2 separate regions of the Homo sapiens genome follow, and region 2 is linked to region 1. A link means that fine-mapping ties the variant in region 1 to the expression of a gene that starts in the linked region. Tissue or cell type: lung. Region 1 holds a variant in brackets; the other region holds the start of a gene. All regions are shown on one strand. Distances are between the middles of the regions.

The links. PIP is the estimated chance that this variant, and not a neighbour inherited with it, causes the effect.
Region 2: it holds the start of CCNY, and the variant in region 1 is fine-mapped to the expression of CCNY in lung (TOPMed, PIP above 0.99). The same link has a PIP of 0.9 or more in fibroblasts.

Annotation. Positions count from the first base shown.
Region 1 is chr10:35,568,013-35,576,115 of GRCh38, reverse strand. It overlaps CCNY (cyclin Y), which reads right to left. Exons shown (of 10, transcript NM_145012.6): 10 at 3,449-7,062. The coding sequence ends at 6,946. Among named protein-coding and RNA genes, the nearest start is that of GJD4, 33 kb to the left of the region's middle. The variant TA/A (reference allele first, on the strand shown) is at 4,797.
Region 2 is chr10:35,332,182-35,340,279 of GRCh38, reverse strand. CCNY (cyclin Y) reads right to left here and starts at 3,771. Exons shown (of 10, transcript NM_145012.6): 1 at 3,073-3,771. The coding sequence starts at 3,226. It overlaps CCNY-AS1 (CCNY antisense RNA 1), which reads left to right and starts at 3,856. Exons shown (of 4, transcript NR_186477.1): 1 at 3,856-4,060; 2 at 4,204-4,352. RefSeq lists a silencer at 3,406-4,145 and an enhancer at 7,745-8,039.

The sequences.
Region 1 (8,103 bases):
ATGCTAGGATGAAGATGTGTTTAGGATGAAAATGTGTCTGTTTTCATTGATCCAGCCCAAACACAGCTTTTGAGAGCAGGGGTCCGGGTTTTTCATCTTGACACAGTCTCATTGTGTATGATGCATGGTAGATTACCGGTACTCAGGATTTGGACTAACCTCAGGAACACATTATCTGTTACAACTTACCGATGGTTCACCCCAGAAGTGTGGCGAGAACTGGTCTTTCTTTTCCTATGTGTAACCTCTGAAGTACATGTGGCCCTTCTCTCCACCTTGTGGCCGTCCAGGCGGGAACCGTGCTGCCTGTCACACCCACTCCTTGAGCACCAGAACTAACTAAATTCTGTGGCAGTTTCCCATTGGTCTTCAAATCTGTGTTCCTCAGCAATGCCTGTGAGGCCTGGGCTGATCAGCTCTTCTCCAACCACATCTCCATCCATCTTCCCTTCTCCCCATCTCTTCCACGGAGACGTCCACTCAAAAGGTCATGTCCATCAAGCTGCCACCTCCTAGTTACTATCATAACCACTCAATTTCCCTCCTGACACTTACCAAGATCCTTTTTACACGCTAACTTATTTGACCATCTGCTCCACTAGAACATCCCCCAAGAAAGCCATATCCATCCCCAACATGAATTAGACAGTGTCCAGCTCAATATTTGTTGAAGGAATTACGTCAGTATAAAACAAGTACACATTTTCTAGATAATATTCTAGAACAGGAATTTTGTTTCGAGTTTTGCTTACACGTAAGGGGCCGTGGCTCAGCACAGGATGCTGCACAAGCTAGGGAAGGAGCTACCCAGCATTCTGGGCTCTGGGTGCCTCACTCTCGGTTTTTCCACATCCTGTATTTGTTGTTTTTCAAAGATTGCAGGGGTGACTAAACCTCTTATTAGTCTCGAGGTTGCTCCTGCAAAACCCAGCATAACCATAACGGGATATTAGGGACGGAAAGGCTCTGGAAGTCACACATTTCTCTGTTTTAAAGATGAAGTGACTCAGAATTGATCACAGCCATGGGACCTGCCAGACCACATGCCTGCTGCATTGCACCAAGGCCTGGTCCTGGGGGGTCCTGCCCCTGCAGAGTCATCATTACCACGCGCTGCCCCCTAGTGCTGGTGTCTGCACGGGAGGAGGTGCAAAATCCTTCTCTTCCGAGGTTGGCTTCCTGAGCTTTGGTCAGCAGGTCTAAGGAAGCATTGCTGGAGCTCACAGAAATGAAGCAGCATCCTCTTCAGGACAGAGGCACTTGGCAGTGGATTCACACACCCACTTCCACTGTTTCGAGATTTCCAGGATCCACCAATGCAGACAAGAACTCACAAACCAGGTCCAGGAATGGCCAACTAGAGGCCACGCTGAGCATTCAGCTGTACTTGGGAGAGCTGGGGAAGAAGGGACAGCAGCGGAAAACTGGGTACCCAGGTCCTGTAAGACCTGCTGCTTCTACCCATGGCCACCCTTCTTTAGGAGAGGACCTGGAGAACACAACCGACTTCCCCTCGTCCTGGGTTTTCTGTCACCGTTAGGCTTGCACTTGGCTTTTACTATGTCCACCCTTGCTACATTTAGAGGAGCGTCCAACAATTGTGGCTGAATGGCTGAGCAGAGTGTGCTCAGAAACAGACTAAGACAGGTGATGAAAACAAGAGTCTCCCTCACAGCCAAGGTCACTGAGAGGTCCAGAGAGGTCAAATAATTTGTCCAAGGTCACAGAGCAAGTTAATCTTTTGGACTGAGACTAAAACCCAAGGTTCCATGACAAAAAAATCAATACCGATGTTAACATCTTATGCATAAATTCTCGCTACATTTAATATTTCTATCCCAAACTATATTTTGTAATGCCATTCTTTTATCCCTTATTTGAAATAACTTATTTATATGAACAAAAATTCTTAAAAGGAAAGCCCCCCACTGAAACCAAGTCCCTTAAAGGACACTGGAAAGTTTATTGAGACCTGTAGAATCTGAACATCATTAAGTCAGACATCATGTTTGAGTTCACTTCTTACTGTAACAGGTTCTGCAGAACTCTTTTCACAAAAACCTATGAAGGACAGATACAGTTGCCAGGCCAAGTCCTCACCCAGCTGCTGTGCCCAGCTCAGACCTGCCACAGTGCACAGAGACAGCAGCTGCCAGATTAAGAAGCTCATTTTGAGGTTGATCACTGCTGAGAAGAGTGACAGACAGGACCTTTAGCCCCTTCACATATGCAAACTTAGTAAGAAAATCTAACAGGAAAACAGGCAGGGAGCCTGCTGACTTGGAGGTACGAACTCCAGCCCCACCACTGTGACTGCAAGCACTCCTGGGCATCTCCCCAGCCCTGTTTGGGTGCAACAGCTCTAGCAGGGCGCTGCATTCAATAACAGCAAGTCAGCACCTTAACCAAGCTGTTTGCAGGCCTTGGCTTGAAATCCATGCAGCTAAAGACATAACACCCTGGGAGGGTGAGGCAGGAGGAGCACTTGAAGCTGGGAGTTGAAGACCGGCATGGGCAACACAGCAAGACCCCATTTCTATAGAAAATTTAAAAATTAGCCTGGCCAGGAGCAGTGGCTCACGCCTGTAATCCCAGCACTTTGGGAGGCTGAGGCCGGCGGATCACTTGAGGTCAGGAGTTTGAGGCCAGCCCGGCAAACATGGTGAAACCCCATCTCTATGAAAAATACAAAAATTAGTCAGGTGTGGTGGTGTGTGCCTGCAGTTCCAGATACTTGGGAGGCTGAGACAGGAGAATCAGTTGAACCTGTGAGGCAGAGGTTGCAGTGAGCTGAGATTGCACCACCGCACTTCCAGCCTGGGCGACAGAGTGAGACTCCATCTCAAAAAAAAAAAAACAAGTAAATTAGGTGGGCATGGTGGCACAGGCCCATCGTCCCAGGGAGGCTGAGGCGGGAGGATCACTTGAGCCCAGGAGTTGGAGGCTACAGTGAGCTATGATTGTGCCACTGCACACCAGGCAGAGTGACAAAGTGAGACTCTGTTTAAAAATATATATATATTTAAAAATAAATATATATATAAAACCCAAGTTAAGTATCCTGTTCCTGTCTCAGTGCAAGAGCATGTTTCTTGTTTCCTTCTCTTTTTCAACAAGGGTAGGACCTCATCATGGCTGACTTTTCAGAAGATAATGTCTTTAAGACCCACCCAAGATGCTGACTCCAATGACATCAAGGGAGATAAAGTGGTTTCAGACAAAATGGGGTATCAATATGAAAGTGACATGTTCTATTAGGTCTCTATTGTGCAACTTCTCAATTGCTGGAGTAGCTCTCATACTTTTGTGAGTCGCTCAAGAACACAGGGCCAATACCACTTTCTACCACTGCTCTTGCAAAGAACTGGTTCACTCAGCATCCATAAAACCTGTTGAATTTTATCTCAATATACTAACTCAAAAAACACAGCAGGAAGGCAGGCACTACTTTGTTCTATGTATATATTTATTTAACATTTATTAAATACCTACAATAACCAAGAATCATGTTTTATTTTTAAAAAATTTCAAATCTGGGCCAGGGGCAGTGGCTCACGCCTGTAATCTCAGCACTTTGGGAGGCTGAGGGGGGTGGATCACTTGAGGTCAGGAGTTTGAGACCAGCCTGGCCAACGTGGTGAAACTCTGTCTCTACTAAAACTACAAAAATCAGCTGGGCATGGTGGTGGGTGCCTGTGATCCTAGCTACTCGGGAGGCTGAGGCAGAATTGCTTGAATCCGGGAAGTGGGGGTTGCAGTGAGCCCAGATCGCACCATTGCACACCAGCCTGGGTGACAAGAGCGAGACTCCATCTCAAAAAAAGAAAAAAAAAAATTCAAATCTGTAAAATATGGCCCCAGGTGAGAAGTTACCAAAAGCAGCAGGAAAAGTTTAAATCATTCACTCCCCAAATTTTGCTTTCAGCTTAGCTTAAAGGAAACCCCAGGATGGAGATGGCTCTGCCCAAGCCCGAGAGCAGGCAGACAGGAAAGCCAGCCCAGAAGAGGAGGCAGGTACAGGTGCCCACACCTCTGGCCTCACCTCATGCATGAAGGCACATCCCGATCTTGGCAGGATTTCTCATCTGCCCTCCAATTTGGTTTTAAACTCCTGACTTCTTCTTTCCCTTTTTCTAGTTAAAAAAAAAAAAATAAGAAAAGTAAAACAAATCAAAAAGATTCATCGGGATATATATTTATTGTCCCAATGACTTTATTTGTTGTTTAAATCAAATATAAAATTAAAGTAACAAATTGTGTCGTTTCCTTCATCCTTAATGACAAAAACTTTCCATTCAAAAACTACACTAAGACAATGTGTTCCTCAATAGTAATCCAGCTTTAATTGTAGAGCATTAATTCGCCTTACAAACAAATTACAGTCACTACGATTTATCAGTAAGTACTGTACTGGTTTTGTGTTTTCTTTTGGCAAACTTTGAACAAATCAGAGAAGAAAACATAACTATTCATCATCATGTAGAAAAAGAAAAGAAAATGAACCTCAAGTATCTACCTATGTGTCAAGTGATTCATCCTGCCAGTAAAACTAAAATCTACACTTACAGCGGAGTTTTAAACATCCTTAGTGCAAGAAACATAACCAATTAATACAGATCAACACTAATTAATGAATATGGAAAATTTTCCTATACAGAGGTAGAATCCAGGGCACAGGCTAAAACAGTATTCAGTAGTCTAAACAAGACTTGAGTCTGGTTTTATGGAATCCACTTTAAATTTTAGGTATCAGACTGTATGTACATACATACAATAAATAGACTATACAATTTTTT[TA/A]AAGTAGTTTAATAAACTCCACAAAATAATAGCAGATGCATTGAAATATTTACATAATTCGATTTTCAAATCTCTCATTCAAATAAAAGGGATAAAAATAAAATTTCTGCCTTTACGGCAGCAGAACCTCTTTCCTGAAATGGATTGGTAAAATAAGATACTTCACTGGAGAGGAACTAATTTATGTTTAAGAGGTATTCATATTCAGCTAAGAAAATACAACCCTTTTTCAGCTATATAGATTAGGGAATATAAAATGATATTTTCTACATTTTTTGACCTGTATTCAAAGTTCTAAATTCAACTTTGACTTGAAGAGAGAAGGTGATTTTGGTACCCATACAGAGTAGATCATCACAATTACAATGGAAAGATAATTAACGTTTTATATGCTGTTTATTTGCTTTTGAAAGTTTGGGTCAGAAAGGCTGTGATAATAATTCTGGCCCAAACAGGTATGCTTATACCTGACACAAATTTCACTAAAACCTAACACTTTTGGCTTGGAGTTCTTGGGATTTCGACTTTCTGAGTCCCTTCCATTTCCAAAGCATGTTTCATTGAGAGCAGGCAATGTTTGGGGATCAGGTGTATGATTCAAGACTAATTAAGATGCCAAAGTTTTCCAAGCTCACATGGGAAGAAGGTGAAACACAGACCTGCTGCTGCCACTGGCCTCCCAGAGACTTGAAAAGGGAAACAACTCAGAAACCTGTCACTGTGACCTAAGAAAATATGCAAAAACCCAAAGCATTACATATGCAAGTGACTCACACTCTTAGATTTCATATCAAATTCACTATTTGATATTCTATCATCAACTTTCATTTTACTTGATATAAAAGATTCTTATTGAGTCCATAAGGAAATCAGGGATCGTCAGAAAATGAAAAAGTATGGTCATAATTAATGAAGCATAAACCTTCACAGTTTGAATTTTGTAGAACTTCTCTAAGCACCCACAATGAAAATGCAAGTTGAGTTTTTTTTAATTCAATCATTCTGTGAAAAATACCTCAGTAAATAGTAACATTTTTCCCTTCAATGATCTTCCCACTGGAATACCCAACCCACCCTTGTTTTTTTTCTTTTTCTTTTAGATTTTTTAAAAATTTTATACAAATAGACTAACTTTGATTTAAAGTAAACATATAAAAATTGAGAAGAATATTGCTTGCAACAATGGACTTGGAAGGAGAGGAATGGATTAGGCAGGGGTACAAAGAAATGGCTCCTACTCGGTAGTTCCAGGCACATGCCCAGCACTCTGCAGAACTCTCACAGGGACACCCTCTGCTGCACCGTGTCCTTCAGCCCACAAAGTCTGACTGATTTTGTAACAACAACTTCAGGTCAGGAAAAAAACAAATGCAAGAAAATCGGAAGGCACAAGCACCCATGTGATCTAGAATGTTCTTGGGGTGAGGAATAAGGAGGGAAAGGGATACTTTTGGTTCAGCACTACAGTCAATTTCGCCATTGTTGAAGAAAAACGGTATAAAATAAGGGTGTACAGAAATGGAACAAGCACAGCCCACTGGTGAGGAAGAAAGCTCAGAAGACAGCGCGCAGAAATAGTGCAGAGAGAAATGACCAGTACTATTTATTTGGAAGTCTGCGCCATGGTGGGTACAAACTACATCCCCTGCTCTGTGGGACCAAAATCAAAACAGGGCAAAAACAAATGAACAAAAATACCCCCATCCCAAAAAAGCAGCAGAAGGAATGCAAGAAGTCTTACAGGACACACTGGCCCAGCCCTGGGTGCAGCCAGCTCTGCATCCACCGCTGCGCTCGCCAACTTCAGCTACCGCCCCCATGGGGACTCCAGAGGGCCGGGCTGCTTAACCATTTTCCCTGCCTCTCCACGACTTCCCTTTCCCTTTATTTCCTCCTCCAGGATTCGAGTCCACTTCCTCCACGAAGGAAGTGCTGTTGCTGACAGTGGGGAGAGCGAGCTGGGATCTCCAGGGCACTGACGCTTCCTCCAAGCCTTGCTGCATGGGCGCTCATCCAGGCAGCTTGACGGAGCTATGCGTAAAAAAAGAAAAGGAAAGAAAAAACAAAAACAAACCCACCCCAAGTCTGTCTTTTCTCAAACTAAAGGAGAAACTAAGGGATGGTGTGGCCTCCGGCGGGCCTCCGTAGTTAAGAGATGATGGCTGGGGACCACCGGGGCAGAGTCAGGTTGTCTGCACTGGCTGAGCGCTTCCTCGCGGATCTTCTTAGGTCCTTGTACTTGTCCTCGCAGAGGCGAGAGATGGCCTGAGGGGCAAGAAAGACAGTGTGGGTCAGGGCGGGCCATATCTGCGTCCATTGCTCACTCGTCCTGGGCGCCGAGGGCGCTGCATGAGGGACAGGCAGAGCCCCTGCCCCTGTGGAGCTCCGGCCCAGAGCCCAGCTCTCTGCTGGCAGCAGGGAGATACGAAGGGAGTGTGGACTCAGCTCTTGTTTCCCAAGAGCTTACAGTCTGAGAAAAGACTCTCAGGATGTGAAATAACAGTACAGTGTCACCTCACAGTCGGCCCGACCAGGGTCAACGCTGGCTCCCCATCTAGGGGTGTGGGACGGGCCCCACCCACACGCGTGCTGTTTTGAATCCTTGGCGTCCTCACCTGCAAGCGGGGCAAGAACAGCACCATCCTGGCAGGGCTGGCATGAAGCACGGGCTTGGAGCTGAGCCTCACAGAGAGGAGAGCTCGGCCGCTGGCGGCAAAGACAGCTGCAGCCAGACCACCAGCTAGGGACTCCACAGAAAAGGATGGAGGACTTAAGTCACCTCTAGAGGGTTGCCGAAAGAGGGACCCAGGGGGATCACAAAAATATGAGATGTGCAGATAATCAACACTTTGGTGATAAGGACGGGGGACCATGCTACTCTGGCAACAACTCTCCCAGGGCTGCCACTGGGTGTGGCTAGAACTGGCTGATGGTAAAAGCTGAGCCCACTGTCCCAGGCTTTGATTATTTGGAGAAGAGAAAGAGCAGCCTTGTCAGGATATGACTGGCCTTTTCTCCTGCCCTGCTGAACCCCTAGGGCCCGTGACACAGCAGCCCCAGAAGCAGGTGAGCTCTCCCTTCTCGGCACTCGGAGAAACCTGAGGGAACAGCAGGTGCCAACTCCACCAACCTCGGCCTGTGCTCTCAGGGTGACTGACTCAGAGCCCCAGATATTCTTCAGCAGAGAACACAAGACTCACTTTCCTGCAGAGCTGTGTAGCTGCCAGGAGCTCCGGCTTGTCTCATTAGCACTGAAGCAGCCACTAGAGCCATAGCTGGTGACGAGGGGGACCAGGGACCACAGCA
Region 2 (8,098 bases), 240 kb after region 1:
TGACAAGACACCCTATCCCAGAAGGCAACCCCAGACTAGCTAACGTTTGATGGCTAAGTCAAGCAACAATGGAAAGTTTCCATTTGCCATGTATTGGCTGTGTGACTTTGGACAAGTCATTTCTCCTCTCAGTGACTCATTTCTTTGTCTTAAAGTAAGGGTAATATTACCCATAGGGTTACTGTGAGTTCTAAGTAAATGAATGGAATCCAAGTACTTAGAGCGGCAGCTGGTGACAGCTGCTACAGAGTAAGTAATACATAGGCTGCAATTATTACTATCATTTTTTTATTTTCCTAAAGAATTGTTCTGAAGATTACTATTGTTGTTATGTGTTGCTGTTTTTTCTCAATCTCTGAATGATTTTATAAGAAATAATACCTGGAAAGCATGAGTCCAATATCAATTTCAAAAACATGAATAACCTAACACTAAGATAAACTGAGCAAAAAGACACATTAAGTTGCCATTAAGCACCATAGACACCTAAGTTCCCAGACACTAAAATTACTGAAATTCTACAGGACAAGTATTACCCCTTCATGTGCCTGGTGACAAAGGGAAGAAAGCATGGATACATATGTCATATCTCTGTGATTTAAAGACACTAACCTATCATAGAAGACCCATGAACTTCAAACCTTTCTAAACCAGCTGGGTGGGATGTTTTTCAGGACATAAAAAATATGGTATTTGAGTACTTCAGCTTTTGATATATACTAGAGTCAATGATTCTTAAAATGTAGTTTTAAAATGTTTACTAATAACCTAACAATCAATATAACTCAGTTCAAATACATACAGATATAGATGAGCAAATACAGACATATAGATGTATATAGTGTGTATATATATACACTCTATTTAATTAAAACCTGTTCTCTTCTCTCAGCCTCTAATAATGAATTTCTACCAAAAATGTCCCTGAACGGCAGGTAACACTTCCAAGATTTGCCCAGCCAGCAATTCTCAGGCCTACCTGCATCTCAGAATCACCTTGGAGAGATTTAAACATATTAATGGCAATGTCCAGTACTAGATTTCTGGTTTAACTGAAACCAATGTTGAGAACTGCTGGCTGGGTCAATGCTAGAAGTATTATTTATTGAATTTGAGAGACAGAAGGTGAATTAATATTTCGGGGTTTAAACTAGCATAATCATATGAACTGGGATCTGGGATGAGAGGGCACTCCACAGCCTAGATTGGAAACCTGCCCTATACTCTCTCAAACTATCCTGAATCTGCAAAAGAGTCTTCCAAACATTCTCTCAAAAATTCCTGATGACTGAAACTTAAGATTTCTTTGAAATGAAAGAACACACAATATCATTTCACTGTACTCTGGCAAAATTGTACTGAGCCTTAGTGCCAAATACCTGGTTACACTTATTTTTTCCACCTTATTTCCTTACAATAGTCTATAATAACTGTATGCAGCCTGGCTCTAAGAAATGTAAATCTTCTTTTTTTTCTTTTTTGATCCATCATTCAAAACAAAGCCTCCGCTAGATACTGCACAACATAAAAAGGAAATTTACTGCACATCATAAAGAAGACATTATTTCCAAATGTTTTCGCCTGTCAACATAGTATAGGACTGGGTAATGGCTTTCTGTAATAAACTCATTCATTTATTCCTCCCTTTAAAGTACAATACTTACTGTTTATTATATGCTAGACTTTTCTTTCAGGTGCTAGAGGCTGTGAAAGTGATCAAGACCGATCTGGCCTTCATCCTTCTAGATGCCTTTAAATGCATAAATTTAAGAAGAAAGTATGGCTGTAGTTCAAAGACATCTAAGCGTATGTTTAAAATAATGGAAATCTAAAATAACAACACTAGACACGTCATATGGAACCATAATTTACTAAGCGCGTACTAGAAACCAGACGTTGTGTTACTCCCTTTATACATGGCACTCATTTAATAAAGATGCTCTCCTAAAAAGATTAAACTACCATTTAGAAGAAATTACACGAAGACAAACGAGAAAAATCTTTCCTTTAGCAAAGTTTAAATGTGGCCTTTCCACAGTGGAGAGAATCTTCCATCCTAAAGTGGACAGGAACGAATTATGAAGTTGTGTTCATTCATTCACACAAAAATTTCTTCATATTAGTTCAACCAGATTAACTATGAGAAGATGTTTGGGTTAAAAAAATCACCTTGTCATAAAAAGATACTTCCAATTTCAAATCTTTTCAGTTGAAAATTCTATAAACTATATTTTAAGCATGATGCATAAATATCCCTCTGTCGTTATCACTGAGCAACAGTGCTAATAAATATGTTGCCAAACCAATAAAATAAATAAAACATTACTGCGTGCAGTAATTAGTCTTAGCTTTTTTTCTTTTTGCAAACTCCAGACCAACCAAAAGTCACCTGAATAAATCAGAAATTCATAGGACTGCAATTCGGGCCCATGCAAAAACTGAGACTTAACCCAAAGGTGTCTGACAATCTTTTAAAGAGCATTCTCGGGAGAAGCTATTTGACTAATCCTGGAACCGCCACTCAAAAAAATCATTTTTTAAAAAAAACGGTAGAATGGGAACGGGGGAAGTGGAGTCCATTTGTAAGGTTCCGGGGAACTGACTCAACATGGTTCTCCAACTCGAGGTTGGAGACACCGGGATTCCAAAATGGGAATCCACTCACTTCGCTTTTATAGGACAAACGCGTGCACAACTTGGCTTCGGGCTGCATTCAGGTAGTGCCGGGAACCCCGAGCTCCCGGGCCGCCCCCACCCAGCTCTGGCCGCTCCATTAAGGACGAGGGCCGGCTCCTGTCACCTCGCGACCCACGCGCACACACCCGCCCTAGGCCCGCCGTGCTCGATGCCGCGGGCCTGCAAAGTTTCCGCGGCCGCTCACTTGGGGGTAACCAGCGAGGGGTACGCCCAGAGGCTGCGGGGCCCCGGGCGCCTAGGCTGCGCGGGCGAAGCCCCGGTTATGCACGGGTCGCCGAGACCGGCTGGGCAAGCAAGAGCAGCCGGGCCGCCCCGACGTTGGCTGTGCGACTGTTGCCGCGGGGGCGGGTAGGGGGCTCGGCGGGCCGCACTCACCGTCTATGTTCTCCCGGTCGCTGATGTGCTGCAGGTTGCAGCCCGTGTCCTCGCGGCTCAGGTCCGTGTCTGGCCGGTAGGACTCCAGCCGGGAGTGGGCATTCCTCCGGAGCTTGGGACTGGACGACACGCAGCACGAGGTAGTGTTCCCCATCTTCGGCGGCCCCCCGACTCCTGCTGCTATCCTGTTCTCCCAGTCCCCGGGAGCGGGGCGCGGGTGGACGCGGGGCGCGGGCGGCGGGGGCGTGTGGGGAGGCCCGCCCGCTCGCCGCCACGGGAGGGGGCGGAACGGCGGCCGGCCGCCGGGTCAGCAGCGGCGGCGGCGGCGGGGCCTCGCCATGGGCGGCGGCGGCGGCGGCGGCGACGAGCGGGCGACGGCCCCGGCTCCCCCTCGGCCGGCCTATCCGCGGCGGAGGAGCGCTCGGGTCCGCGCGACTGCGGCCGCCGCGCCTACCTCACCCCGCCGCGGCCATGGCGGGCGGCGCCGCGCAGGCCGCCTCCCCCCCGCGCTTCCCCAGTTGGTGTCCGCTTCCCCGGCGGCTGCGGCGACGGCGGCCGCCTCGGCAAGAGGTTCCGGTTCAAGCCGGGGGCACGCGTGTCCGCGCCGGACGGCGGGACTAGCCGACGAGCGGGCGGGCAGCGGGCGTGGGCGCAGCCCCCGGACTCCTCGCGGCGCGGTGCGGCGCGGCCAGGGAGGATGCTGGCGGCCCTCCCTCGCCAGCGGCGCCCGCCCTCGCCGCAGCCCCCGCCCCGCCCCGTCACCGCCCCTTCCCTCTGCCCTGGAAGCAGATCGGCGGCCGCGGGGAGGTTCGGGGCGGCGCAGCCCCGCGCGGTTGTGGGATCGCTCCCGGGGGCCGCTCCTCTCTCGGGCACTGGGGTCGCGGGAGACGTCGTCGGGAGCTCGGTTTCTGGAGGCCCTTCCCCACCCGGCCTCTGCCTCCTCCACTCCCCCGGGCTGGACGGAACGGGGCCCAGCGCGGGATGCGAGGTGCGTCCCCGGGGCCCGCAGCGGGCGGGAGCGCAGCCAGGGCCCGGTCGGGGACGCAGGCCCAGGGCGCTGAGGCTGCACCTGCCTCTCCGAAACCGGGCTGGCTCTTTTTGTCTTTTTATTTTTCTAATTTATTTTTTTAGAGGTATGATTTCGCTCTGTCGCCCAGGCTGGAGGGCAGTGGCGCAATCTCGGCTCACTGCAGCCTCGAACTCCTAGGCTGAAGCGATTCTCCCGCCTCAGCCTCCAAAGTAGCCGGTACTACAGGCGCGCGCCACCACGCCTGGCTAAGGTGTGTGTGTGTGTGTGTGTGTGTGTGTCTCCAAAGTAGCGAGGACTACGGGTGTGTGTGTGTGTGTGTGTCTCCAAAGTAGCGAGGACTACAGGCTCCCGCCACTACGCCAGGCTAAGGTAGGGTGTGTATGTGTGTTAACTTTTTGTAGAGATGGGATCTCCCTTTGTAACACGGGCGCCCGCCACTAAGCCAGGCTAAGGTGGTGAATGTGTGTGTGTGTGTGTGTTAACTTTTTGTAGAGATGGGATCTCGCTTCGTAACCCGGGCTGGTATCGAACTCCTGTCTTCAAGGAATCCTCCCGTCTGGACTCCTCCCATGGGATTACGGGCATGAGCCACGGCACCTGGCTATTTTTTTTTTCTAAGCATTTAAATAAGCTGGGGCTTGATTTGGGAGTTTTCTATTGTATTTTGAGCTTTGCCGAGGACTTGATAGTGACCTTGCTTTAAGCTGTGAAATAAATCTTGGGGTCCCAGAGCTATTTTAATATTGAATTCGCTGTGGAGTTGTTTTGAGTTCCTTGGAGGTTAACATGAGATAGAAAACTAAGTTAACACAACTCATCGACTGCCCTTGCTTTGCTTTGCTTTGCTTTTAGAATGCCATCGGGTTTTGTCATGTTGGGAACAAGTTAACTTAGGCCAGTTGACTAAGATCAAGGTATGTGAACATGCCTGGCTGGGAGAGAAGTAGAGTAAATGTTGGTTCGCATTCCCTCCCGACGCCCACAATGCCAGCCATCCCTGACTTTTCTTGCCTTTATTGGGAAGAATATAAGGTGGCAGAAACAAACTTCCCACCCTTTTTCCAAATATTTACTGAAGGAGTCTTGAGGAGAGTCTTGTGGGGTGGGGGGGTGGGGGTGGGAGCTGGGAATGTTTTTGAACTAGTTCTTGAAAAAAAAACTAGTACAATAGTACAACTGTCTTAATTTTATATATGAGGAAACTGAGGCCCAGAGATGAAATCATGCCTTGATTTATGCAGACCTCAGTACCTGTTCGTGACAAATCCAGTTACTAAAAGGTAAGAGAAGGAATAAGGGACTTGATATTTATCTAGCATCAGCAATGTGTGGACATCGTGTGAACGGCTTTATAAACATTTCATTTAATTCTCTACATCTAGCCATTTTTTAACCTGTGCTTTCCCTCCCTCTCAAAGTACTGTTTATACATTTATTAGTCCATATTTTAAACGCTCCATGCTCTCAACTGTATTAATGCTATTTGTTAGGATAAGTGGCAGATGTCCATGGAAAATAAGTGGCTGCAAAGTGGTAATGCTGACCAGATGAGAAAAGAAGTGTAAAAGGGAAGTTCTAAAGAATTAAAGCCCTGGAGAGGGTGGGTAGACAACAACAGTCCAAAATAGTGCTCTTCATTGAGGCTGTGTAGATTTTCCTGCTTCCTGGGAAAACTGGGGCATATTTACACTTGCATGTGTGTATTCAGATTGTCTGGGGCTATGGAGTTTGGGTCAGATTGCTGAACCCGTGGGAGAGAAGTTCCCTTGTTGTCTGTTGTTGTCTGTTCTGATTGCTGCTTTGTAATTTGGGCCACATATGAAAGTCAGCATCCAGTCATTGGACCATAGGTGTGTGGCATATCTACTCAGATGCATTAAGCTATTTTTATTTCATTATAAAATGTATAACATTTACATTCAAATTATGGTTTGAAGGGCTTAAGAGGAGAAAGAGACAGTGGCACTAAGGTGACAGCATGGCTGGCTGCATGCTTCCTGTCCAAGAAGGTCACTGGGCAGTGTTAACTGGGAAGAGCATCTGGAGGATGAGAGATCAGTGTAGCCACATACCCTTAACAAAGGGTGGTACAGCCTCTGGTCTGCCAGGATTTTTGTGCCCCGCCCCCCTCCCCCTCTTTCCCTATCTCCTCTTTGACATTTCCACCATATTCCCCTTAGGTATGTACCTGTTTGGACTTTAATTTAGAGTGTAACTTTTGGTCAAGAATCCTGGAGAGAAAAGACGGGTACTAAAGCCTCGCTAGTGATTTACCTGGGTGCCGACCCCCACAACTCATCCACCCTACATGCATACTTCAAACTCCTCCAGGCAGATACTCCCTGCCTGACACACAGTGACACTTTGGGAAAAATTGCAGAACAGTAACCAACTCTGAGCAGATAAATGTGATGTCAAAATGATAGTAATGAGAGATGTCGTTCGTTGAAAGCCTGCTAGCTGCCATGCACTATACTATTTCTTACATCTAAATCTGATTAAGTTATACCCCATTTTATAAATAGACACTTTGATAAGTAAACCTATCTAAGATCAAAATACTGAGAAATGTCCTAATTGGGGATTTGAACCTGGTTCTAATTCCAAAGTCCAAGCTACATCCACCCCAACCTCCTACCTCCTATCTCCAAGACTTTGTGAGTAAAAAAACAAGTGTCACTTCTCTCCTTCTCTTTTTTCTGTCCTAAAGGAAGCTGGGAGCTAACCACTTAGGACTAGTACTAATCTTTCAGAGAAAGGGATGAGGGGAGCCTTGTTATTTCTGTGGGGTTCAGCTCTCAGACCAGAGTAAGACAGGCAACAAGGTTGAGGAGTAGCCATATGCAGAAATAACCTGTGTATCTAGCCACAGGATCTCCAACACTGTGTCACTCGGGAATCAAAATACAGAGACAGTTCCTCAATAGAGTGTGGATCTAGCCCAGAATGTGGACAAGGGGAGTGGAGAAGGGGAGAGGTACACACTGAGCATTGTAACAAGGCCTGTCCTCAAGCTTGAGGAGGATTAGGAAGATGGCTTGAGTCTGGGAGTAGGAGGCTGCAGTGAGCTATGATTGTACCACTGTACCCCAGCCTAGGTGACAGAGTGAGACCCTGTCTCTTAAAAGAAAAAAAAAATTGACCTGGATCTACTCATACCCACCCTGGTCTTTGAGCAGAAAGAATCATTTGGGAATTATTTTGTCTCATCTTTCTCCATGATCACTGTTGAAGAATTTGGTCACTGTAACCAGGTAAATATAAAACTCAGGTGGGCCGGGCGCGGTGGTTCACACCTGTAATCCCAGCAGTTTGGGAGGCTGAGGTGAGTGGATCACGAGGTCAGGAGATCAAGACCATCCTGGCTAACACAGTGAAACCCTGTCTCTATTAAAAATACAAAAAATTAGCCAGGCGTGGTGGTGGGCGCCTATAGCTCCAGCTGCTCGGGAGGCTGAGGCAGGAGAATGGTGTGAACCCGGGAGGTGGAGGTTGCAGTGAGCCGAGATCGTGCCACTGCACTCCAGCCTGGGTGACAGAGCAAGACTCCGTCTCAAAAAAAACTCAGATGAACTATAGCTAAGTCAGTGCTCTTGACACTTTTTTAGCAATAGTAGCTTTGTTTCTCACAGAAAAAACAAAATTTTCTGTGGAACCACACTATTTAAAACATAAGCAATATTAGTATCAACTTGTATAATTTATAGATCTACTGATAAAAACAATCAAGAATAGTCTACCTTAATTGAATCAGGAGGAGATAACTGCAGTCTTACATCAGCCATACTCGTATCCATGAAATATGAGTCAGTCATTTGCACAACTCCCTGAGTCACCTTCTGGAACACAGAAAACACTGAGCCAAGTTAGCCCAGGACCTGAACCTTTTGTGGAAAGGAAAATCTGTAGTGTCTCCTCAGAGTATGGCTGCCCTTTCACCTGGTAGTCAGTTTCTCATGACGGTTACTCGAGCATTTATAAGGCAGTTGTGAAATA